Regions from separate parts of the Homo sapiens genome. Here all the other regions are linked to region 1. Evidence: fine-mapped expression QTL. A gene starts in region 1. Each other region holds a variant in brackets. All regions are shown on one strand. Distances are between the middles of the regions.

What was found. PIP is the estimated chance that this variant, and not a neighbour inherited with it, causes the effect.
Region 2: its variant is fine-mapped to the expression of SAV1 in whole blood (TOPMed, PIP 0.97).
Region 3: its variant is fine-mapped to the expression of SAV1 in whole blood (INTERVAL, PIP above 0.99).
Region 4: its variant is fine-mapped to the expression of SAV1 in whole blood (TOPMed, PIP 0.98).
Region 5: its variant is fine-mapped to the expression of SAV1 in fibroblasts (GTEx, PIP above 0.99).
Region 6: its variant is fine-mapped to the expression of SAV1 in whole blood (INTERVAL, PIP 0.99).

Annotation. Positions count from the first base shown.
Region 1 is chr14:50,665,884-50,669,976 of GRCh38, forward strand. It overlaps SAV1 (salvador family WW domain containing protein 1), which reads right to left and starts at 2,423. Exons shown (of 5, transcript NM_021818.4): 1 at 1,991-2,423. The coding sequence starts at 2,084. RefSeq lists an enhancer at 1,421-1,490 and silencers at 1,851-1,980, 2,091-2,660.
Region 2 is chr14:50,424,429-50,428,521 of GRCh38, forward strand. MAP4K5 (mitogen-activated protein kinase kinase kinase kinase 5) reads right to left here. Exons shown (of 33, transcript NM_006575.6): 31 at 1,479-1,549. Among named protein-coding and RNA genes, the nearest start is that of CDKL1, 30 kb to the left of the region's middle. The variant C/G (reference allele first, on the strand shown) is at 2,223.
Region 3 is chr14:50,713,313-50,717,405 of GRCh38, forward strand. No RefSeq gene overlaps it. Among named protein-coding and RNA genes, the nearest start is that of SAV1, 47 kb to the left of the region's middle. The variant C/CT (reference allele first, on the strand shown) is at 2,182.
Region 4 is chr14:50,639,680-50,643,772 of GRCh38, forward strand. SAV1 (salvador family WW domain containing protein 1) reads right to left here. Exons shown (of 5, transcript NM_021818.4): 4 at 1,071-1,214. Among named protein-coding and RNA genes, the nearest start is that of SAV1, 27 kb to the right of the region's middle. The variant T/G (reference allele first, on the strand shown) is at 2,422.
Region 5 is chr14:50,761,998-50,766,090 of GRCh38, forward strand. NIN (ninein) reads right to left here. Exons shown (of 31, transcript NM_020921.4): 15 at 1,829-1,967. Among named protein-coding and RNA genes, the nearest start is that of NIN, 67 kb to the right of the region's middle. The variant G/C (reference allele first, on the strand shown) is at 1,536.
Region 6 is chr14:50,633,175-50,637,267 of GRCh38, forward strand. SAV1 (salvador family WW domain containing protein 1) reads right to left here. Exons shown (of 5, transcript NM_021818.4): 5 at 406-2,210. The coding sequence ends at 2,009. Among named protein-coding and RNA genes, the nearest start is that of SAV1, 33 kb to the right of the region's middle. The variant G/A (reference allele first, on the strand shown) is at 1,622.

The DNA of each region.
Region 1 (4,093 bases):
ATACATAATATGATAAAATATCAATAATCTTATCTATGAACTACACATTAATGAAATGCTCATGAATTAATGTATAAAAATAGGAAATAATATAACAAATTGATAGTTTCTAGTTAAGTAGTTTATTTTGTTGTTCTCACTTCATTTTAGAAACTGCCAAAAATCCTTCTTGAAGCAAACACAATTTCAAAAATAGAACTTAATGCTACTCCCAAATATGTAAAAGTGGATTCCTTTAAAAATTAAAAAATTAGTAGCTCTTTCTTCTCTTGGAATTACCTAGCACTAGCACAGTAATCAAAAGCTAGAAAGCCAAAAATTTATGTATGAAAATTGAAAATAAAAAGCTCTCATTTCAAAGAAGCACACAAATGTAGAAGTGGCTCAAAAAACCAAGCCTGAAACTATGTAATTATAATTCAAAATAGTAGATAATAGAACAACAGCTTTTAGGATACAGTACTTTTAAACACGAAACTTGAAAACAGCTTAAGACATTCCCAGTTAGAAAGCAAATACCTTTAAAACAAGACAAAAACCTGAATATGCAGACCCTCTTATTATTCATCAAGTAAACAATATTGGAGACACTCATATTAATAAGCTTCAGAAACTAACACTGGACAGAAACAAATATCTGAATAAATAAGGCTCAACACTTGATGTAACGACAACAAAACAAAGTAGATCAAAAGTTATTTGCTTAACTGTGACAAACATTAACAAAACTGCACGTTCTACACATGTACCCCAGAACTTAAAGTATAATAAAAAGTGTGACAAACATAATTCACGATTTCAAGTAATGTCTGATAAACTTTATTTGCAGCAAACAGCAAGCTATCACTTAAAAACAGCCAGAAACCTAACTGCATGTGTGACTGAAAATCAAGTTGTTAAAAAAAAAAAAAAACAACTTAAAAATCAAGTTTCGAGTTACTGATGTACTCAACTGACATATATTTTGTTGAAAGTATTGCAAGTACCACCATAAATCTGGAAGGCTGACAATGTGGTTATGATGGAAAAACATGCTCTCCCATCTGTGTGATCTTGGGCAAATACTAGAAACCTAACTTTCCCAATTACAATATGAGGTAATACTTAAGTCACAAGGTTACTACCAGCTTCCAAGAAGGAAACTTAAGCAAAGGGCCCAGGGCGCAGTAAGAGCACCAAAATACCAGCTCCATGCCTCACAAATGTCCTGAACACACAAGAATTAAAAATTCAAGAGATTCAACTCAAAAATCAAATACTTACATTAAGAAGAAAAGCAGCGGGGGACCGGAGGTGGGGATTGGGAGTGGGATCTACCCTATTAAAAAAAAAAACTTTTCGAGGGGGGGGTTCTCTAATACGATAGAAATTATTTTGAGTTGCCTTCTTGGAATCTCACGAATATAGCCAAATACAAAGGCTTTTGGCTCTCTGCTCTGCTGTGTAAGAGTGATGAGGCTTTGGGTGGCGGCTACAAGAACGACGGTATGCTTTTCACCTTCTCAAGTCTGCATCCGGCAGCAGGACTAAGGAATTCTGCCCCAGAGTTCGCACAACTTGCAGCACAGTCGAGAGACACCCGCAATGTTTGCAAACATGACGCACATCTCGACGCATCTAAAAGAGTAAAAAGTGTCCCTGTCTAATTACTTTTACTCCTATAGCATTAGGTGATAAGCAATTTAAATGTTTCCTACTCTCTCTTCCAGTAATCAAAACCAACAACTCTGCCTGGTGGGGCGAGGAAGTCTGTTATTTTTAGGGGGTGCTCTTGGGGGGGTTAGGCGCGGGGGGGACTAACCCAAGTTTCTTACTCTTATGGGCTTTCAATCAACGAATACCACTTCAGACACAAGAAAATCTCAAAACCAGTATTTCACGCGACCAAGGACGAAGGAGAAGCCCTGGAGACCCGCCGGCGCCCCCGCCAGGGTCCCCGGAGCACCTGGCCGCCTGGGCCAGGTGTGGGCACGCCCCGCCTGACACTCACTCCGAAGCAGAGGCGACGTCTCCTTCTTCACGTACTTCCCCTGCACCTCGGCCGGCTTGGACACTTCGTTTTTGGTTTTCTTTCGGGACAGCATCCTTCTCGACGAGGCCCGAGGCCGCGCTGAACTGCCTCCCTAGGGCTCCGCGCCGGGCGCCGGCCGTCTCCGCCGCCACCTCCGCCGGCGCCGCCGCCTCCTTCCCTCCCGAGCCGCCGCCTCCGCCGCCGCCTGTCCGGAGCCCGGGGTCGCCCGCAGGGACTGCCGCATGTTCAGGGCGCTAAGCGCGCCGGCCGCCGCTCAGTCGCTGGTCAGTTCCTTCCCGGAAGTCGGCCCGCTCTGCGACGCTGCTCGGGGACGCCGTGAGGAAAGCCCAGCGACGCCGGGCCAGGGCCAGGGCCATGGTCCGCCGCGGGCCGCCGAATAACCGCTACCACTACCGCCGCCGCCGCCTACATCCCGTAAACTTTCCCCGCGGCCGCTGGGAATTCTGGGAAGCTCGACGCAGCGCGGGCCGCCGCTGCCCCTCCCCCACCGCGGCTCCAGGCGCGGCTCCGGCGGCGGGACTCGGGTGCCGGCGCTCTAGGCTACCGGGCCGTCCCCGCCGAGCTGCGGCTGTCCTCACTCATCCTCAGCGAGAAGCAGGTCCTGCCGACTGAGAAGATGAAGGACGAAACCTGCCCCGCTGAGTGCGGGAGTTCGTCGCATGCGCATGTCGTGGAACCTACTCTCCACGAGTTTTTATTGTTGTTGCTTTTGTACCCCCTCGGGATCCCTAGCGGAGGCAGTGACTCTCTTTCCCCCCAAGACGTTGTTCCCTGTTTGAAGGTGTTCTTCCTAATGTTTCCTAGGCTGCTGAATTCAGCTCTCTAAAAAATGCGGAATGCTAACCATGACTCCCAGGCAAGTGCTACACCAAAGCATCTATTCTGCTGGAAACGTTCATGCTGATTAACTAGAAATAAGTTGATCCTCTACTGAGTATCAGGGAGTGCGTTTTTCTATAACAGGAAAAAACGGAAGAATGCAAGATGGAATTTCCAGTACCTCTTTTTAAGATACAATTGGTGTTAGCATATTACAATTATTTTATTGCATCATCACTATCATTAGTATGATTAATAGCCACATATTTCCTCCTGACGTTATGTGTTATGATCTTAGAATTTTGAAGACTTTGACCACTGCGAGTCGGGACCGGGAATTTTCTATCTAAAATAATAGACTCTACTTCCTTCTATATAACTTAGCAAGACTGCCAAATGTACAGGATAACATTTGGAAAATAAGATTGGATTCATCCCCTAGTGACCAAATTAATGCTTTAATAATGAGGAATGCTTTCCCTGAGATCTAAAACATCTCACAAGAGATCTAAGACATATATCACAATTAACAAAAGACATGGAATTTTTTACCACGTAAGATTAAGAAGATGGTCAAATGTTTTACCATGAGCAAACAAAGGAGACATTTGATCTAGTGTCTGTCTCCATATGTTCCCTTGGTGCAGATCTCCCACAATTCATTCATTAACCAGGAAATACTCATTACCCACTGCGCTAGTCGTTTGTGATAGAGCAATAAGCAAAACAGACAAAAATCCCTACTGTCATGGGAAAGAGAAAAAAATGACAAAAAATAAGCAAAACATACTATGTTAGATAGTGATAAGTGATGAAGTGAAAATAAGAGAGGACTCACAATTTTTGAGAGGGTAATAGAGGGACCAGAGAAGGCTCATGAGGAGGTGACATTGGAGTTAAGTGACAGAGTGAGGAAATTGGCCATGCAGCTAACTGGAGGAACAATATTCCAGGCAGAAAGAACAGCAAGTGCAAAGTCGCTGCAAGTGGCCATGTTCCTGGCAGATTGGAGGAACAGTAAGAGGGTTTATGTACTGGAAAAGACGGGGAGACGAATGGGGAATGCAGTTAGAGAGTAACAATAGCCACGGCACCTAGGGCTTTGTAGGCCATTGTAAGGAATGTTACTTTGAGCAGAGGAGTGACATGATCTGAGTTAATGTTTTCATAGGACTGCTTTGGATGCTGTGTGGAGAGTAGACAATGGAGCTAAGGGCAAAAGGGAGATCAGTCAGAAGTTAT
Region 2 (4,093 bases), 240 kb before region 1:
GGCCGGGTGTGGGGCTCACATCTGTAATCCCGGCACTTTGGGAGGCCAAGGCAGGTGGATCACGTGAGGTCAGAAGTTCGAGACCAGCCTGGCCAACACGGTGAAATCCCATCTCTACTAAAAATACAAAAATTAGCTGGGTGTGTTGGTGCATGCCTGTAATCCCAGCTACTCAGGAGGCCGAGGCAGGAGAATCGCTTGAACCCAGGAGGTGGAGGTTGCAGTGAGCTGAGATTGTGCCGCTGCACTCCAGCCTGGGCGACAGTGTGAGACTCCATCTCAAAAAAAAAAAAAAAAAAAGAGTTAAAAATAGATATTTCGGAAATGGAATCAATATTTGATACAGTAAGAAACAAGGACCTTCTGTAGATTTCTAACCATAGGAGTGACATAATGAAAATAGCATTTAAGAATAATTAACCATATGATAATAAGTAGGACTGTAGGTTTCATCAAGTGCAGGGACTTGGTGACATTTAGTGACACGTATCAGTAACTAGATAAACTTATATATTCAAAGACAGCTGATTTATGTCATTTCCTCCTGGAAGCATTCTAATTCTGCATTCATATAAGAGGTAGGAATATTCATTTATATATAAGTAAGAGTGTGGATAAAACTAAAGGTAAATGCAAACAGAAGAAGTTTTTGAGCTTTAAGTAAGTTCACAAACTTGTTAGGCCATAGTTAGAAGAATCACACAAGTATTCACGTAAATGTGAAATGTCTCTGTTAGTATTATCTTAGCTAGTAGGACTCATTCCTCAAATTGGAGGCCCAAATCCCATCTCCTGCATGAGACGTAATTATCTCAGCTAGAAGTGATTTAAAGAGACCCTTCAAATCCAGACTCTTCCACTTCACTAGTTATGTAACTCTGGGCAAGTTACTTAACCACTCTGTAGCTGTAAAAATGGCAATATGAATAGTATCTACTTCTACTGGATTATTTTGAGCCTGAAATAAGCAAATATTTGTAAAGTGCCTGGAACACAGTAGGTATTATTTAAAGTTTGATATTATTTACAATAATAGTGTCTTGAACATAGTTGGTACTCAATAGTTACTAAATGAGTCAATTTTCTTAGATTCCCTTATTCTTATGCTCCATTATGTATTAATTTAGATTTTAAAATATATTTAAAAAGAAGCCAGATATTTATAGATTATGGAAAACACTTAATAAATTTAGAAAAGTTTTACAAGCTTAGCAACCATATTTACAAATTACAAATTAGATAAATGAAATTGCATGAACTTATATTTTGCAATTCCTGGTGGCCACTGAGAATTTTGAACTATGATACAGAAGTGAACATAGTTGAAGGGAAAATACTGGCTTTTTTGTTCTACCAGTTCATAGTATTAAAAGCACTAAACACAGTAATGTAGGTTCAGAGAGGAAATGCATAAAACGAGTGCTTCGACATTTAAAATTGTTAGTGGGAGTCAGTGGAGGTAATCTGAGAAGGCTTACCTCATCTGACTTGAAGCTTTTACCCTGCATCCCATGTTTCCAGAAAGCCAACACACTGTCTTGAAGGCATACTAAAAATGATAAGGGAGAAGTGAAACTAATATAAAGCACAGAGCATTTCACTATAAATTTTCTCTACTTTTAATAAATAATATAAGCCTATTCAAGTGTCTAGTGCAAAATTCCACTGTCTAGACCACGATTTCTCAACATTTTTGTGGCTAAGACATGCCTAAGTTCAAGTAATTTACTGAGGTAGGGTTATGCAAGTCTTCAAAGATACATATAAAAGCCATTCATTTAAACATGAACTAACTTCTGATAAGGTGGATGTTGGCATATTCATTTCTTTCATACAAAAGATACAGTGTATCTTTTGTCTTAAATGAATAAAATCATAAAAACATATATAACTGGGTTTTTGCATTAAAAGCATTGTTGTTTAAATACTGTTACATATTCAGAAGTAGCTTTAAACAAGCATTTTTTATGTTCATATTTTCCCTGTAACAAAAGAAATTTTAAAAAATAAACCTGGCCGGGCGCAGTGGCTCATCCCTGTAACCTCAGCACTTTGGGAGGCCGAGGTGGGTGGATCACCTGAGGTCAGGAGATGGAGACCAGCCTGACCAGTATGGTGAAACCCTGTCTCTACAAAAATACAAAAATTAGCCAGGTGTGGTGGCCTGTGCCTGTAGCCCCAGCTACTCAGGACGCTGAAACGGGAGAATTGCTTGAACCCCA[C/G]AGGTGGAGGCTGCAGTGAGCCGAGATCACGTCACTTCACTCCAGCTTGGGCGACAGAGCGAGACTCCGTCTCAAACAAAATAAATAAATAAAAAATAAAATAAAATAAACCTGCCCCACAATCCAACATTTAACCACACATTGAATATTTAGGATCTGTGAGTCAATTCTTACATAAAATTCTTAGTATTTAACCATTACAAGTAAGTATTAGAGTTAGAAAAGCATAATTAAAAGTGATGGAGGAAAGTAACTGAAAATTAACTGTTTTATTAGACTATTAACTTTTTGTAAAAAGTTAATGTAAGAATGTTCTGGGAACATAATTAAGCTCAATAAAAATAAAAGTATTTGACAATGACAAATCACATGTGTTTCACTAACTGTGACAAATAAAAAACCTAGTTACTGATTTTATTTTTAAGAGGTGTTGTAAAGGCATTTTTTTTTCCCCAGGAGGATTCCTGTAATTATTCCAAGGTTTACTGGCAAGAAAAGATGGTAGCCTAGGAGGAACAAACTTTTGTGTAACAATTAAAATTACGAAGATAATTTGGCACATCTGAAAAAGTTGAGGTATCAGTGTGTTTCAATGAAAGTGAAGAGGAATTAAGGATTCCTATGTCAGAATCTCTCTCAAAAATGTTAAATCCAAATTGGCATGTAATATAAGGAGTAAAAGAAGAAACTAGTTTCCAAAATTTCTTTTGTCCTGACATTTACAGAAAGTTTAGGTTTTCTGCTTTAATAAATTAAATTTCCCAATCATAAGCAAACTATTTTCATGTAAAATGTCACACAGAGGCACAAACATTTTGTGGATAAAACTCCAATTGAGAAATACATATTAAAATGTTTCTTAAAAATAAAAAACTAAGTAATGAAAATCGTGTTTTTAAAAATATGTAATTATAAAGTACATGTTATTTTTTATGGCCCAAATAAAAATTACCAACTTCATTTTAGTGCCTTTGATTTATGGTAGAATCATATCATGAAATGTTTAAAAATGTTTCCATTCATCATTTTTTTCACAAGTTCTGTCACTCCTGGGGAAGATACTGACATATGATCAATGAGCATGCAAACAATAATAAACTGTAATAATTTTCATCATAAAACCAATGAGTATTAGAGAGTAAAACATTCGTTGACAAGGAAGCAAATTAAATGGCATAAAAGTTTACAAGTCCTGTGAGAACTAGCTATTTATATAAAAATAGTTCCAAAAGCAGTAATATCAACACACACCACCCAGAATCTTACATGGCAAAGAATTATGGCATATCTAACACTGTTATCGCATCACACAAATACCTTCCTGACTGGGAAAGAATTGGGGGAAGTATAATTCACTTAATGCAGCAAAGGGAATAATGAACAGAAATGTTAAAAGTGATTACAAGTTTTAAATATTCAGGAAACAATAAAAGATTTATGATGGTCTGAACCTGCACTGTGCAATATGAGAGCAAGAAGCCACATGTTGTTATTTACATTAAAATTTGAATTAAAATCTAAAAAATGAAAATGTAGCACTAATCATGTTTCAGGTGCTTAACAGCCATATATGTTTAATCACTACTGTATTTAAGAGCACAGATAGAGAACATTTCTATCTTTTTTTTTTTTCTTGCTCTTGTTGCCCAGGCTGGAATGCAATGGCATGATCTCAGCTCACTGCAACCTCCGCCTCGCGGGTTCAAGCGATTCTCCTGCCTCAGCCTCCCAAGTAGTTGGGATTACAGGCACCCGCCAGCATGCCCAGCTAATTTTAGTATTTTTAGTAGAGACGGGGTTTCTCTCCATGTTGGCCAGGCTGGTCTTGAACTCCTGACCTTGTGATCTGCCCACCTTGGCCTCCCAAAGTG
Region 3 (4,093 bases), 47 kb after region 1:
TTGAAAGCACTAAGAGTAGTGATAGAGGTAGTAGTGAGAAAAAGACAGTGACCCAAGTTCTAAAATCAGTGAGGGAGGTGGCCAGGAGGTAGGTAGATGACTGCAACAAGGAATGTCTAATCTGTTTCTAATTATAGCCTACTGCTTGGGATTGATCTGTTGGAAAATCAGTAGTAATGAGGCTTGAATTTGTATATTATATACAAATATATAATATGGAAATGTATATATTATACTGTAATATACAAATGTATATATTCTCTCTACATATATATTATATATCTCCCTGTCAGTGGTATCATAGCCATGAGAGGAATGGCCTGAGCAAAGCACACAGCAATCTTGGCTCATTTACAGATTGCAATGGACAATTTACCAGCCAGTGAAGTGATCACCTTGTGGGCTAAGGTGGAGAAAAGATGTCTAACTAGGGGAAGGGAGTGGAATAAAAACCCTGTAGTTAATTTTGTACTTTGTACTTCTAGAAAGTATAAAGAAGCTTAAATAATCTTTTCAAAGGAAATCTTCAAAGGTGTACTCATTTGTTGTCTACTACTTGTTTGGGGGTTCCTCTTATAGGTTCCACTGTGAATCGCTATTCCTAAGTAGATGGGAACATCTGTAGAAAACTCTTTGTGCCTATGTCCAGATCATACTGTTCTGTGGGCAAAAACCTCGTGGCTTCTTTTCTAAAGCCCCCATTTTCAGACACCTATTGGAAATCTTAGGAGCAGTAATGTCAGTTTCTTCTCCCCAATACCACATGTTTACTTCTCCAGTTATCTCTGGTCAATGAAGACAAGCGCAGTCTTATTTCAGGGTCAAAGTACAGCCAATTTAGTACTGCTTGAAAAGTGGAATCCAAGGGCTGTCACCCTGGGCATCAATATAAAAATAAAATTGCTGCATTTAATTAGCTTCCACCACTGCAGGCTACTGCTGCTGCTTTCTCTCCCCCGCAAGATTCTACCACTTTTTCTTTCCCCAGGTGGATGTATCACGTTTAAACGTGAAAATTGCCCTGTTCTCTTCAGGAAACCAACCGTAGAACTAAACTCTACCTTTCTTGGACTTCATCTTTTCTAGAATTGCATACATCTTGTATCTTCTCTAGGGTCAGGCTGGAAAATCAAGACCACTTTATCCTTCCCCGATATCCAACTAATTCTAGGTCTCAATTAGGATAAGGTTTGGCTGCATATAATAAGAAAATCCAAAATAATAGTTACTTAAACAACTAAAAGTTTATTCCTTTTTCGTAAAGTCCAGAAGGAATTGAGGCCTCACATGATAGCTAAATGAATTTGTCAGAGATCTAGGCTCTTTCCAGCTCTCTACACTGCCATCTATAGGAGGTGGCCCTCATCTTTATGGTCCAACATAGTTGCTAGATCTTCAATCATCATCTTCACTCTAGGCAGTAGGAACAAAAACAGGTGTATTCCCCCTCTTTATTTTTGGAGATGGGGTCTTGCTCTGTTGCCCAGGCAGGAGTGCAGTGTAGTAATCATAGCTACTGCAGCCTCAAACTCCTGAGCTTAAGGGATCCTCCCACCTTAGCTTCCTGAGTAGCTAGGACTGCAGGCACTGTGTCTGGCTAAATTTAAAAAAAAAAAAAATTTTTAGAGACAAGATCTCACTATACTGCCCAGGCTGGTCTCACACTCCTGGGCTTAAGTGACATTCCTGCCTCAGTCTCCCTAGTAGCTGGGACTATAGGATTATGCCATCATGCCAGCTTATCCCCTCTTTTAAGAAGTCTTCCCAGACCTCCTGCATATCAGTGGCCAAAACCTAGTCACATGGTCACATCTAGCTGCAAAAGAGGCTAGAGAATATAGTCTTATAGCTGGGTAATAACATGCATGGTCAAATTTCAGCCTTCTTTTTTTTAAGGAGGAAGGGGAGGATGGTTAACTGGAAGCAACTATTTGTCCTGCCTTTTCCTCCTACTCAATACATAGACAACATAGCAAGAGATACTGTTGCCCTTTGAGAAGCCAAACAGAGTTTAGTATGGCTAAATTCACTAATTATTACTTTATGAATTAATCAGAAGGTATTCTTAAGAATTTAAAATCTTAAGTATTCTCACCACAAAAGTGATAAGAATGTGAGGTTATATATGTTAATTAGCTCAATTTAGCTATTTCACAATGTATATGTATTTCTTTTCTTTTT[C/CT]TTTTTTTTTTTTTTTGAGATGGACTCTTGCTCTGTTGCCCAGGCTGGAGTGCAGTGGTGCGATCTCGGCTCATTGCAAGCTCCGCCTCCCGGGTTCACGCCATTCTTGTGCCTCAGCCTCCTGAGTAGCTGGGACTACAGGTGCCTGCCACCATGCCCCGCTCATTTTTTTTTTTTGTATTTTTAGTAGAGATGGGGTTTCGCCATGTTAGCCAGAATGGTCTTGATCTCGTGACCTCGTGATCCGCCCGCCTCAGCCTCCCAAAGTGCTGGGATTACAGGTGTGAGCCACCGTGCCCAGCCATGTATATGTATTTCAAAACATTGCATAAGATATATATGTACAATTTTTATTTGTCGATTTAAAAAAGAATGGAGACTTGAGGACATGGGGTGTTCTTAAACAGTAGTGTGACATTCAGTCTTATTTTAGAAGAATCCTATTTGGAGGCTGTGTGGGGAGAGCAGGTTGGAGTGGGGCAACTTTAAGAGGTTCATGGTAACCTTGGCAAGTACAGATTTGATGAAATGATGGGGGCGGGGTCAGGGAAAGGCAATTCCAAATCTTGGACTTTCAGATCATTGATTTTTTTCTAATGTCTTGTGATCTTTTTCTTTTACCCACTTCACCATTATGTGAACTACCTCAGAATTGCTTATTTTAAATATCCTGCTTTTTGACCATCATTTAAGAAAAAATATTTCCAACAAATCTACTTTAGCATCTCCACTTCAAAAAAGCCTTTACTCCCAAACACTGACCCTACCAGTTTTCATACACATCAACCATCTGCCCACATCCACCTCTGGTTCTTGCTTATACCCACTGTGACTTGCATGGACACTGTTAAATTTACATGTAGTATCTGGAGAATACATAGGAATCAGGACAAAGGGGTGGGGAGAGGGCAAGGACAAAAGAAGGAATGATATGAGAAATAGTGCTAAGATGAGTGACCACACTTGTCACTAGACAGCACTGAATATGGTACTTTTTTTTTTTTTTTTTTTTTGAGAAGGAGTCTCATTCTGTCACCCAAGCTGGAGTGCAATGGTGCGATCTTGGCTCACTGCCACCTCCGCCTCCCGGGTTCAAGCGATTCTCCTGACTCAGCCTCCTGAGTAGCTGGGATTACAGGCGCGCGCCACCATGCCCGGCTGATTTTTGTATTTTTAGTAGAGACGGGGTTTCACCGTGTTAGTCAGGATGGTCTCAAATCTCCTAACCTTGTGATCCACCTGCCTCTGCCTCCCAAAGTGCTGAGATTACAGGCGTGAGCCACTGTGCCTGGCCAGTGCTGAACTTTTCATAATAAACTATAGGTGTATGGTTAGGCTAGCATAAATGGTTTCTAGTGAGTTTTTACTCAGAATACCATCTATTCTTCAGAGTAGCTAGAAGGGCAAGGAAGATTAAGGTGCTTGACACCACACTTAGTACATTTTTTTATCCATAACACTTCAAACATTTTAACTGGAAATCATTTCAAACTTACAAATAGGGTTACAATGATAATACAAATAATCCTTGCTTCATTGCCTTATTTCTCTCACTCTCTCACATTCTCCCTCACACGTGTATGCACATGCCTGGGTAATTTTGTTTCTGGATCATTTAAGAATAAGTTGCATATATCAGTCGGGCATGGTGGCTCATGCCTATAATCCCAGCACTTTGGGAGGCTGAGGCAGGTGGATCACGAGGTCAGGAGATCGACACCATCCTGGCTAACACAGTGAAACCCCGTCTCTACTAAAAATACAAAAAAATAGCCGGGCGTGGTGGCGGGTGCCTGTAGTCCCAGCTACTCGGGAGGCTGAGGCAGGAGAATGGCATGAACCTGGGAGGCGCAGGTTGCAGTGAGCCAAGATTGCACCACTGCACTCCAGCCTGGGTGACAGAGCAAGACTC
Region 4 (4,093 bases), 26 kb before region 1:
AAGTACTATCTCTTCCCCCAAAAAGGAAAGATTATGCTATTTCTTATTAAACATGACTATAGAGTAGAAATAACATACAACAGAAAGAATAACTCTCCTCAACCATATCCACCCCCAGAAATACTAAGGTTAACAGTTAGGCACATATTCTTCCAGATTTAAGGAAAATAAAAACGCATACAGATATTATGTACTATTTAGAATCAGCATACAAACATACAGCTGTAGGTCAGGTGGTATCAAGGGACAAAGAAAAGAGGAAAATAGGAAAGAAAATGCCATCTGCTATCATTCCTTTTTCTGGCACTAGTAGGGGGGCAGTCAGGGTCTCTCATGCTCTGTCACCCAGGCTGGAGTGCAGTGGCACAAGCATAGCTCACTGCGGCCTCAAACTCCTGGGCTCAAGCAGTCCTCCCACCTTAGCCTCCCAAGTAGCTGAGATCACAGGCATACACCACAGCATGCTGCTAATTTTTAAATTTTTTATAGAGACAGAGTCCTGCTATGTTGCTCAGGCTGAACTTGAACTCCTCAGATCAAGCTATCCTCCCACCTCAGCCTCCCAAGTACTTGGGACTACAGACCATGCAAAAAGCCTGGCTAATTTTTAAAATTTTTCTGTGGAAATGGGGCTCTCGTTATGTTGCCTAGACTGGTCTCGAACTCCTGGACTTAAGAGATCCTCCTGCCTCAGCCTCCCGAAGTGCTGGGATTACAGGTGTGAGCCACTGTGCCAAGCCCAGGTCCTTACTTTTATCACAAGTACTGTATCACTTATTTACAAATTAATCTTCTCCTATGAGAATGTAAGTTTCTTACTTGTATCCCTAATAGCAGAGGCCCGCACACAAAGAAATGAAGATTCTATAAATGTCTGAAGAACTAATATTTCTAATTAATGATTTTCACACATTATAAACTATGACATCCTTTATTCAAGTCACGTATTACTTAGAAGCCGAATATTATTAAGAGTAAAATATGGCACACTACTTGGATCGAGCAGCCCAGAGACTCCATTCAGCCCTTCACTCACTCCTCAAACAAATTTGTGTTGTAAATGTACTTACTTCACAGGGGCTCGTGCGTAAACCTGAAGCCAGTCAGGAATTTCTGCAGTATGATATGGATTTGCAGGTACCAGAAGGGACTGATTTCTTTCAGTTTGCTGTGGCTGGTATGTGACAGGAGGTGGTTGATCATACCGAGGTACACTAAGAAGAAAGGAGTGACATTCTTTAGGATAAAGGTCTTAAAATCTAAACAAGAAATTATAAAGAACAAATAATACTTAAGCATTTTTCAGTGTGCCTTCTGTCCAAACTGACTTACACCACCTGAAAGGTAATGTATTTTTAAGATATTTCTTCTGGCTGGTATTTAGTCTTTTCAAAAACAGGTTCAAAGGAGGATATGAAAAAGCTGGAACTAAGTTTTAACCTTTATACAAAGGCTTAAAACTAGAATAGTAAATTCCCACAAGAAATAGTCATCAGCTGTAAATTCATATCAGAAAGGTTGACAGTTTCTAAGAAAGGATGTTTCCTTCCTCCCGTAGGCTGAAAATGGGGGTTAGGATATGTAGTGACGCAGCAGTGAGTATTGTGTTTGAAATATCTCTATCCAATGCAGATAACTTTTCAACTTTTACCAACTCAAGAGAACATATGGGAGTCAGAGTTGATCAGAACCTATTTTAAGTCACAGAGATTAAAAAAAAAAAAGACCATACTTTAGTTCTAATAGCCTGTGTATGCTGTGGGGAGTGGAGATATTATATGGGAAAGTGTAAGGAAAGCACTGAACCACCTGAAGGTTAATAGCTGAACTCGAAGCGGCCAAAAGGGTCTATTTGAGACCAAAAGGGGTCTGCACCTTCAAACATAAAGATTTATGTGTATATGTGGCCAACAAGCATATGAGAAAATGCTCAACATCACTGCTTATTAGAGAAATGCAAATCAAAAGCACAATGAAATAAATACCATTCCACATCAATCAGAATGGCTATTATTAAAAAGTCAAAAAATAACAGATGCTGGTATGGTTGCAAAGAAAAATGAATGCTTATACACTGCTGGTGGGAACATAAATTAGTTCAGTCACAGTGGAAAGCAGTTGGGAGACTTCTCAAAGAACTTAGAACTATCATTCAATCCAGCAGTCCCATTAATGGGACTATTTCTACAAAGGAATAGAAATCATTCTACCATAAAGAAACACGTGTGCACATGTTAATTGCAGCACTATTCACAATAGCAAAGATACGGTATCAACCTAAATGCCCATCAATGGTGGGCTGGATAAAGAAAATGTGGTATGCAGACACCATGGAATACTACCCAGCCATAAAAAAGAACAAGAGCATGTAGTCTGCAGCAACACTGATGGAACTGGAGGCCATTATCCTAAGTGAATTAA[T/G]GCAGGAAGAGAAAACTAATACCACATGTTGATAGGTAGGAGCTAAACACTGAGTACACATGGACACAAAGAAGGGAACAATAAACATTGAGGCCTACTTGCGGGCAGAGGATGGGAGAAGCATGAGGATTGAAAACTACCTATCAGGGACCGGGCGTGATGGCTCACACCTGAGGTCGGGAGTTCGAGACCAGCCTGGCCAACATGCAGAAACCCCGTCTCTACTAAAAATACAAAACTTAACCAGGCTTCATGATGCATGCCTGTAATCCCAGCTACTTGGAAGGCTGAGGCAGGAGAATTGCTTGAACCTGGGAGGCGAAGGTTGAGGTGAGCTGAGATCGCGCCACTGCACTCCAGCCTTGGCAACAAAAGTGAAACTCCGTCTCAGAAAAAAAAAAAAAAAGAAAAGAAAAACTACCTATCAGACACTATGCTTATTACCCGGGTGATAATCTGTACCAAATCCCCAAGCCATGCAATTTACCCATGTAACAAACCTGCACATGTACCCCTGAACCTAAAATAAAAGTTAGGGAGAAAAAAAAGAAAATGTGGTGTATATATAACAATGGGGAGAAAAAAATGCATGTGTATATTAGAAAAGGTCACTGTTTACTAAACTGGGATTAAAATAAGGTTAGATTATGCTGTGGTTAACAATTTTAAAAGATCAATATGCAAATGGAACTGAATTCTATCTTCAACTCTTCTTTCCTAAATAGGTTCAAAGGAAAATGTTCTTTGATAGTACAACTGGGGGTGAAGAAGAATTGGGACTTTGAAGTCAGGTACGCCTGGATTTGAACCACAGCTTTAACACTTACAAACTATGTAAATGTAAGCAAAACTCCTCCTATCCCTAAGCCTCAGCCTCCATACTTGTAAAAGTGGAATAATAAATTCATACCACAGGTGGTTGTTCTCAGGATTAAATGACCTAATGTAAGTCAAGAATTTTGTATAAGGATTGGCCTAAGATAGACAACCAGACAACTAGTAATACTACATATGTGAGCTTAAGGGCAGCGTTTATTCTCTCTTGTTCAACTTCTACCAAGTTGCTGAGAGAAGTAAATTAACTAATTATGAAATTGCTTTTAAAAAACTATTAAAATTCTGTAATAACATAAGGTTAATGATGATTGTATTAGTCTATTTTCACAATGTTATAAAGAATTACCTGAAACTGGGTAATTTATAAAGAAAAGAGGTTTAATTGACCCACAGTTCCATAATTGGGAGGCCTCAGGAAACTTAAATCATGGCAGAAGATGAAGGGGAAGCAAGGCACATCTTACGTGGTGGCAGGAGAGAGAAAGAAGGGGGAACTGCCACACACTTTTAAACTATCAGATCTCATGAGAACTCACTACCAGAACAACATGGGGGAAATGGCCCCCATGATTCAATCACTTCCCACCAGGTCCCTCCCTTGATACATGGGGATTACGATTTGAGATGAGATTTGGGTGAGGACACAGAGCCAAACCATGTCAACGAACAGAAAAGTAAACTCTCAAATCTGGTTATCTGGACTGCAACAATCATTGCCACCTGATGACCACACCACAGGTTTGATTCTTTCAAAGGACAACAACCTCAGTAGTTGAATAAACACTGATTGGGTGCCACTACATGGAATCATGGGAAAAAACAGATTTTCAAAGTT
Region 5 (4,093 bases), 96 kb after region 1:
AAGGAATGATTTTCAGCCTGAATTACCAGAGATGTGAACTAATAGGAAATAACAGAGGCCAAGAGAAGTCTTTTCTCTTTTCAAGCGTTAGGGCAAACAAGAAGAAATGAAGGTGAACAGATTCTTTCATGTACAGGCAGTGGAAAAAACCTTAATAGAATCCATCTCTTAGAATAGTAGGTGGTGGGGCGGCGGGGGTGGAAATTGTTGCTTATAGGTAGCTACCTCCTAATGCAAATGCTGCAAATTGAGGTAATAGCATGAGGTAGTTTGGTCAAACCAACCAGACTCCTACCCATCCAACAAATACTGAATGACGATGTGGCAGGAAAATGAACGGCCAGCATACTTGCTGCGATGCCCTGAGGAGTTAGCTTCATGGGTCACACTATCAACAACCCATCACTCAGCATTACAGAAGACTGCCTATTTCCTATGAATTTCCTAGAGTGTGGGTAGATCCCCATTTTATCTTATCAGCTATTATTGGCTAAAATTATCATATTTTAGCTATTATCAGCATAATTTTAGCATATTATCAGCTAAAATTTTAAAAAACAGGGCATAGGTTAGGAACCAGGATACAGGCAGTTGTGGGTAGAAATTCTTAACTCATGCATGAGCTCATCTCTGCAACTGCCCACGACGATGACTGAGAATGACACTGAAAATGTGAAGCATAAGTTGGGGGCTGAGCTTGTACACAGAAGAAAAGATTATGACTAATCTCTTAAGGCAGTGGGACCCAAAATAGCTTTGCATGTGGGGATACACAGGCAGATGGAAGAAAGGAACTTTTCTTGGGTATATGTCTAGCAGCTGCAACTGGCAGTCTTGCTTTGGGTCTTCTCTTCATATTTGATGGCATATTCCCAAATGAGAAGTAACACCCAGGGTGTGAGCCACACCACGATGGTACAGCTTCTTGTCCTCATGAGGAACAACCCCAACACTTGGCCATCTATGGAAAAGTCCATAACAGCTGCCGAGATATATCATATTATGAGATCCTCAGACTGGAATGAGCTAAGAATCAGAGGGGAGGTCTTAAGGCCTCTTTGTCTCCTCCTTCCCCAATCTGTTAATTATTCTGCAGTAAGAGGAGGAATAAACAACCTGTGTAAGAACGACACTCCTATCCCCAATAGCACTGGGGAAAGTTATTTATAACAGAATAACTGATTATGAGCTGTCTCTGAAATTTAAACTCAACACCCCCGAGAAAAGAGGTAGGCTATCAGGAGAGAGGAAAGGAGCTCATAGTTAATGCAGGAGGCTCCCAAACTCTGCCTTCCAAACTTGCCACTCAAAATCTTCCTCAAAGGCCAGGAGGCCAGCCCTTATTTATCTTCTTTGTTCTGCTGAGGCAATACAGACATTCAGCACAGCCCGTATAAGAAAACCAGCTATGGATTCTGTAGTATCTGGCTGGCCTGCTCTCCAAAACCATCTTCATATGAGTTACACACTCTCTTCGAAGAGGACAGCAATAGCTCAGTGTCTGAATTCTAACACTCCCAAGGCCTGGATTCCCA[G/C]ATTTGCAGCCAGTTTTTTGTTTGTTTTGTTAACAAAGCAAATACCCTTGTGGTTTGATTCTTCCATTCCTTTGTTGACGCATATCAAAATCAGATGGAAATGTTCTCATAAAAACTTCAAGGACAAATGAAAAACGAGACCACAAGTGAAACAGCTCAAGAAAAGAGTATGGCCAAATTCTTTTTTTTTTTTTTCTTTTTTCAAGTTGCCAAAGCTTTGCAATTTTATATTGAACCACGTTTCTAAAAACAAGAGTAAAGGCTTTATCTACAGCCTGTCCGAATGTGTTTACCGTGTTCGGGCTCAATGCCACCGCTGTTAGCCTCAACTTCTTCTGACGGTGAGTTCTTCAACGGAAGCCTGAGCACTCTGCCTTGTGCACGATATTCTTCCAGCTCAGACTGGAGTTCATCTACTTGGTCTTGTAGTACCTGGGATTTAAAAACCAACACTGGTCTTAGATGTGACACCAAAAGCATAAGCAACAACAACAACAAAAAAGATAAATTGGATATCATCAAAACAAAATCTTTTGTGCTTCAAAGGACACTATCAAGAAAGTAGAAATGTTTTGCAAATTAAGTATCTGATAAGGGACTTGTAACTAGAATATATAAAGACTATTATAGCTCAATAATAAGACAATTTTAAAAATGGGCAAATGATCTGAATTGATATTTCTCTAATGATGATATACAGATGACTAATACATACATGTAAAAGATATTCAATATCATTACCTATCAGGGAAATACAAATCAAAGCCACAATAAGATACCATTTCACACTTACTAGGGTGGCTAGAATCAAAAAGACATACAATAACGACTGTTGGTGAAGAAGTGGAGCAATTGGAACTATCATACTAGTGGGAATATAAAACAGTGCAACCACTTTGCAAGAAGTTTAGCAGTTCCTAAAACGGTTAAACATAGGGTTACCATACAACCTAGCAATTCTACTCCTAGATATATGCCCATACAAAAACGTGCGCACAAATTTTCATAGCTGCGTTACTCATAATAGCCAAAATCCCCCAAATGTCCCTTAACCGGTGAATTAATAAACAAAATGTGGTATATCTACGCAATGGAATATTATTCAAGAAATGAAGAACTGATACACGCTACAACATGGATGAACTTTAAAAACATTATGTTAAATGAAGGAAGCCGGTCTCAAGGGCTAATATTGTAAGATTCCATTTATATGAAATGTATAGAATATGCAAATCTGTAGAGACACAAAGTACACTAATAATTGCCTAGAGCTAGGGGGCTTGGGAGAGATTATGGCTAAGTGGAGAAGGGGTTTCTTCCTGGGGTGATGAAAATGTTCTAAAATTGAATGCGGTGATGTTTGCACAATTCTGTCAATACAATAAAAGACTGAATTTATACCTTCAATGGGTAAAACATATAGTGTATAAAGCTGTTAAGAAAACAAGTGGATGAGGCTGGGTGGGCAGATCACCTGAGGTCAGGAGTTCAAGACCAGCCTGGCCAACATGGTGAAACCCTGTCTCTACTTAAAAAAAAAAAAAAAAAAAAAAAAAAAAATTAGGCGTTTGGCAGACACCTGCAATCCCAGCTACTCGGGAGGCTGAGGCAGGAGAACTGCTTGAACCCAGGAGGTGGAGGTTGCAGTGAGCTGCGATCACACCACCGTACTCCAGCCTGGGTGACAGAGCTAGATTCCGTCTTAAAAAAAGTAAGAAAGAAAACAAGTGGATGAACTGGGGGAATTTCTGAAGGTAGAGCTGACAGCTTTTACTGATGAATTCATTAAATGTAAAGACATTTAGAAAATACCTCTATTTAATTAGAACCAAGAGCTAAAATTTAATTATAAAAGCAGTAGAAATGTTTTCTTAACCATGTATGTATATTTCCTGAAAAGGAGGGCTGCAAGTAACTTCATAATATGATTGTTTTACTCATCTCTGCACAATTAAACTTTTTATCTAAGTAGCTGGAACTCAGTTATATTTGTCTCATTAAAATAAACACGTGTTTCTGGTTTAAGAAAAAAATTCAAATTCCTAACTTTAGGGGAATTTTTTTAAAATCAAAGATTCTTGTTACTTGTAAAAATGTTTCCATCTCTCCTGGCCGAAATTGGGAATGATTTACTAGCTAAGACTTGAGTGGTTTTCTGTTTCATTTGCATTTTATAAATAAATGGAGTAAAAAATGTATTCAGAAAAAAAAAAACCCACAGGACAAAACCAAATCACGTCAGATTAGATCTGCAATGATCAATCAGGAAAGGCTAATTTTTGAATAATAATGTTAATAGCTAACATTTATGTTTTTTTTTTTTAATTTTATTATACTTTAAGCTTTAGGGTACATGTGCACATTGTGCAGGTTAGTTACATATGTATACATGCGCCATGCTGGTGCGCTGCACCCACTAACTCGTCATCTAGCATCAGGTATATCTCCCGGTGCTATCCCTCTCCCCTCCCCCCACCCCACAACAGTCCCCAGAGTGTAATATTCCCCTTCCTGTGTCCATGTGAATAGCTAACATTTATGTAAGTGCTTACTCTATC
Region 6 (4,093 bases), 33 kb before region 1:
AACATGCTAATTCCTTTAGGTAACTTCTAGTTCTTAATGACTAAAATCTCTAGTGGAGTTTCACTGAACAGACTTCTTAGAGGAAGAAGGAAAGTGTGTTAATGAAAAAAGTAATACTTATCTAGGAGGTCCAAAACAGAGAAACTTCTAAAGACTGTCACAGAAATGGCTACACCATAATTAAGTAGCGATATAAAGTAAGAAGTGACAGGAAAGAACAATTAAGATAGAGGAGTGTGGGAGTTCATAAGATATATATACTGACATCTTAGAAAAGTCTGATCACAAGTTCAGCAAATTATCTTTTCCCAGTGATAAAATTCCACTAGCCACACTTTCATTTTTCAATACCCCTTTTCATTACCCCTTTCAATTATATTGATTCCTTTGTCTATGGCCTTTTGAACAGAAAAATGAAATACAGCACTATGTCTAAAACATGGACTCAAAAACCACGCGCTTAGTTTCCACAAAAATATATTTAATAAGCTTGTTATATAAAATCAAACACTTAACATTGTCAACATTTCTTCAGTTATTCAAACTCACTGATATCTAACTGGGAGTAGTTTGTATTCTGGAAGACTTCCTAAGCTAAAAGTATATTTACATATTTACAACACATGTAAATATAACTGAAGAACTACTTCAAATAATGTTGAAATTCACAGAATTCTAGAGATTTATAGTTATAGTTTAGAAGTATCACCAATTTGTTTGCAATCAAATGTACAGCACTAATTATGAAAAATGTTTTAACTATTAAACCAAAAGGGGAGAAAAACTGGGAGGGAAATATATGGTGTTAAAGTCCTGTGATAAATACTTAGAAAATTAAAAAGTAATAATATACATTCGATTTAATGACCAAAAATTTTTTTTGAATCCCTGGTTGTCATTTTTGGTAGCTTAACCCAGTCTGTCAGAAGGCAGTATGCTATGCTGTCAGGAACTCTCCACTGCCTCGTCAGAGCCATGCTAAATGCAGTAACAGCACTGGCTGAAAATAAGGAAGATGATGTTAGCAACTTTGAGTTTCACGCACCTTCCCAATACAGGCTAAGTATTCCTGCTTATATGTATTCCTGAAAGATTAAAAGGCCCGTCACCCATTCATACCAAAAAATACTTTCTCAACATGCTTTAAAAGGATTCCTTATTTTGTTTTTATTTTTTTATTTTTTATTTTTTGAGACAAGGTCTGGCTCTCTCTCTCTCAGGCTGCAGTGCAAGTGGTGCGATCTTGACCCTGCAACCTCTGCCTCTTGGGCTCAAGCCATCCTCTGACCTCAGCCTCCCAAGTAGCTGGGACTAGAGGCACACACCATCATACCCGGCTAATTTTTTTGTATTTTTTGTAGAGATGGGGCTTCACCATGTTGCCCAGGCTGGTCTTAAACTCGTGGACTCAAGCGGTCCACCCACCTCGGCCTCCCAAAATGCTGGGATTACAGGAGTGAGCCACCACGCCCAGCTGGGTTCCTTACTTTGGAGAGGGGAGACAAACATACATCATATATAAATATTTATCACAATAAGGTTCCAAATCCTATTTTATATTTCAACTACATCATGGTAATATTTAAACCATCCCTTTCCAGACAATATTTCACACTACAGC[G/A]GTAAACTTTTTTTTTAAAAAAATACCGCAGATTCTTTTTTTTTTTTAAAGAAGGTACTACTGCTGTAAGAAGTTAACAAGTAATAATTTCCTATTTAACATCTGTTCATAATGACATTTCCGCTGCGTTTTTTTCCATCAAGAATACCAAAACAGTTTCCTAATATACAGTATTTGAAAGTGTTTGCCATATTGGCTCTTAAAATGATAGACTAATTTTTCTCATTCAATAAAAGAAAATTTCTAATAACAAAATACATGTAAAGTTAGAATTTTATAATTTCCACAAAGGAAGCAGCATTTATTAACCAGAGTACTTGTTTGCAATTTTTTATCTGTGAAAATATTTTAAAGCTCTTACAAAACTTAAATTTTTAAAAAATCAGCTCAAAAATTTTTTCCATGTTGTTGGGCATACCACTGCTGTCTCTGCTTTCGGTTTTCCAACTCTGTAAGAAGGGCTTGTCTGTATGCTTCATACATTTTAACAATCTGCTCCAATTCTTTCATGAAGAGCAACTTTAGCATTCCCTGGTATGTATCCAGGTCAGCCAGCTGGAAGAGTTCCCACTTCAGAATGTGGTCATATCTGTTTTAAAACACAATCATATATATGTTCACAACACATACATAAACATGTATTTCTAGCAAGAAACTAGTCTGTTTTTTAAAATGTCAACTTTATTTATAACTAAACAAACCATAAGTTTTAATTAAAAATAACTGGGCACAGTGGTGGCGCCTATTATAGTCCCAGCTACTTGGGAGGCTGAGGTGGGAGGCTGAGGTGGGAGGACTGCTTGTGCCCAAGAGTTTGAGGCCAGCCTGGGCAACATAGCAAGACCCTGTTTCTAAAAATAAATAAATCAGTTTTTTAAAAATCTGAGTTATTAACTGCTATTTACATATAATTCTTTGTTGGTTTGTTTTTTTGAGACAGAGTCTTGCTATGTCACCAGGCTGGAGTGCAGTGGCGTGATCTCAGCTCACTGCAACCTCCGCCTCCCGGGTTCAAGCAATTCTCCTGCCTCAGCCTCCCAAGTAGCTGGGATTACAGGCATGCGCCACCATGCCCAGCTACTTCTGTATTTTTAGTAGAGACAGAGTTTCACCATGTTGGCCAGGAGGTTCTCAATCTCCTGACCTCGTTATTCGCCCACCTCAGCCTCCCAAAGTGCTGGGATTAACTTTGGGAGCCACCGCGCCCGGCCTACATATAATTCTTCTAAGCAAAGGAGAAAACTGCTAATATTACTTCATTTCAATTTAAGTTAAAGAATACCTATTTCTTTAAATTACCCATTATTCTAATATTAACACCAGACAACCTTGAACACAGATTTCAAACTACAGTGGTTCTATAATTTCTGAAGAACATATTTTGTGCTACTTATAAGTTCATCAAAAGTTAACTGTCAGGAACTTAAGAATACTTTAGACCATATTGTGCTTGCAAATGATAATGCACAAAAATGGATGGTCATTTGCATCATTCATGTTGATGCATCTTTTTGAGGAATGCTATTCACAACAGCAAACAAGGAACCAAACAGAAGGAGAAATGAAGAGGAACCCTCAATTCGTGGCTCTAAGTATTCTTGAGGCTGAGTACACAGCATCTAAAAAAACAAACAGGAAAACTAAAGAAGGAAAGAATAAACTTTTTAAAATGAGAGAATGAGTAGACTATAGAAGGCTTCAGTGTGGTGAAGGATTCACAAAAGATTCTGTTTACATATATCATGGAAGACCATTAGTAGTCTTTCAGTGGTAAGTAGATCCCTGCTTAGCAGTAGTACCTTTAGTAGTCGGCTACATAGTTCCATTTCAGTATGTGATGAAGACAGCACTGTAATTAATATTCTCATTTTAAAGATGAAAAACACTAAAACCTAAAGAGGCTCTTTACCTCTTGCAAAAGTGCTTAGTGACTAAAAGTTCAAAAAGGAAGAGAACTATGGACCAAGATGCTTCAAAATAGTGGTTTTCAATGTTAATATCCACTAAGACTAGACAAAGAACTTGAATTAGGGAAACGCATGTTATACCCGAAATTATACCTCTCAAATCATACTGCAGAGCAGACATAATAGGAAGCTTTGATTGCAAACTCTAGCATTATTTTTAATGATCGTTTATAGTATTTCCTACCCAGTGGTTCTTTGATATTATACCATTTTCTTTCAAAAGGACTGTCTAATATTTTAAAATGAGATTTTAAAAAAGGGAGATAGAAAACATACCGAGCAGTTAGTGTGAGCCACTATACTTGGCATTTTGACATGTTTCTATTCAACTTGAGTATGTGTAACAGAAATGTCAGTAATACAACATGCAAAAACTGGAAGGTAAATATATTTAATTGGACTGCCAATTTCACTCAGTTACTTGAGAGCTGCAAATTTATTAATAGATTTAGATTTCTTTGGTAGGAAGCTCTGTTCTTTTTAATGGGAAACTCCAACCACTTGT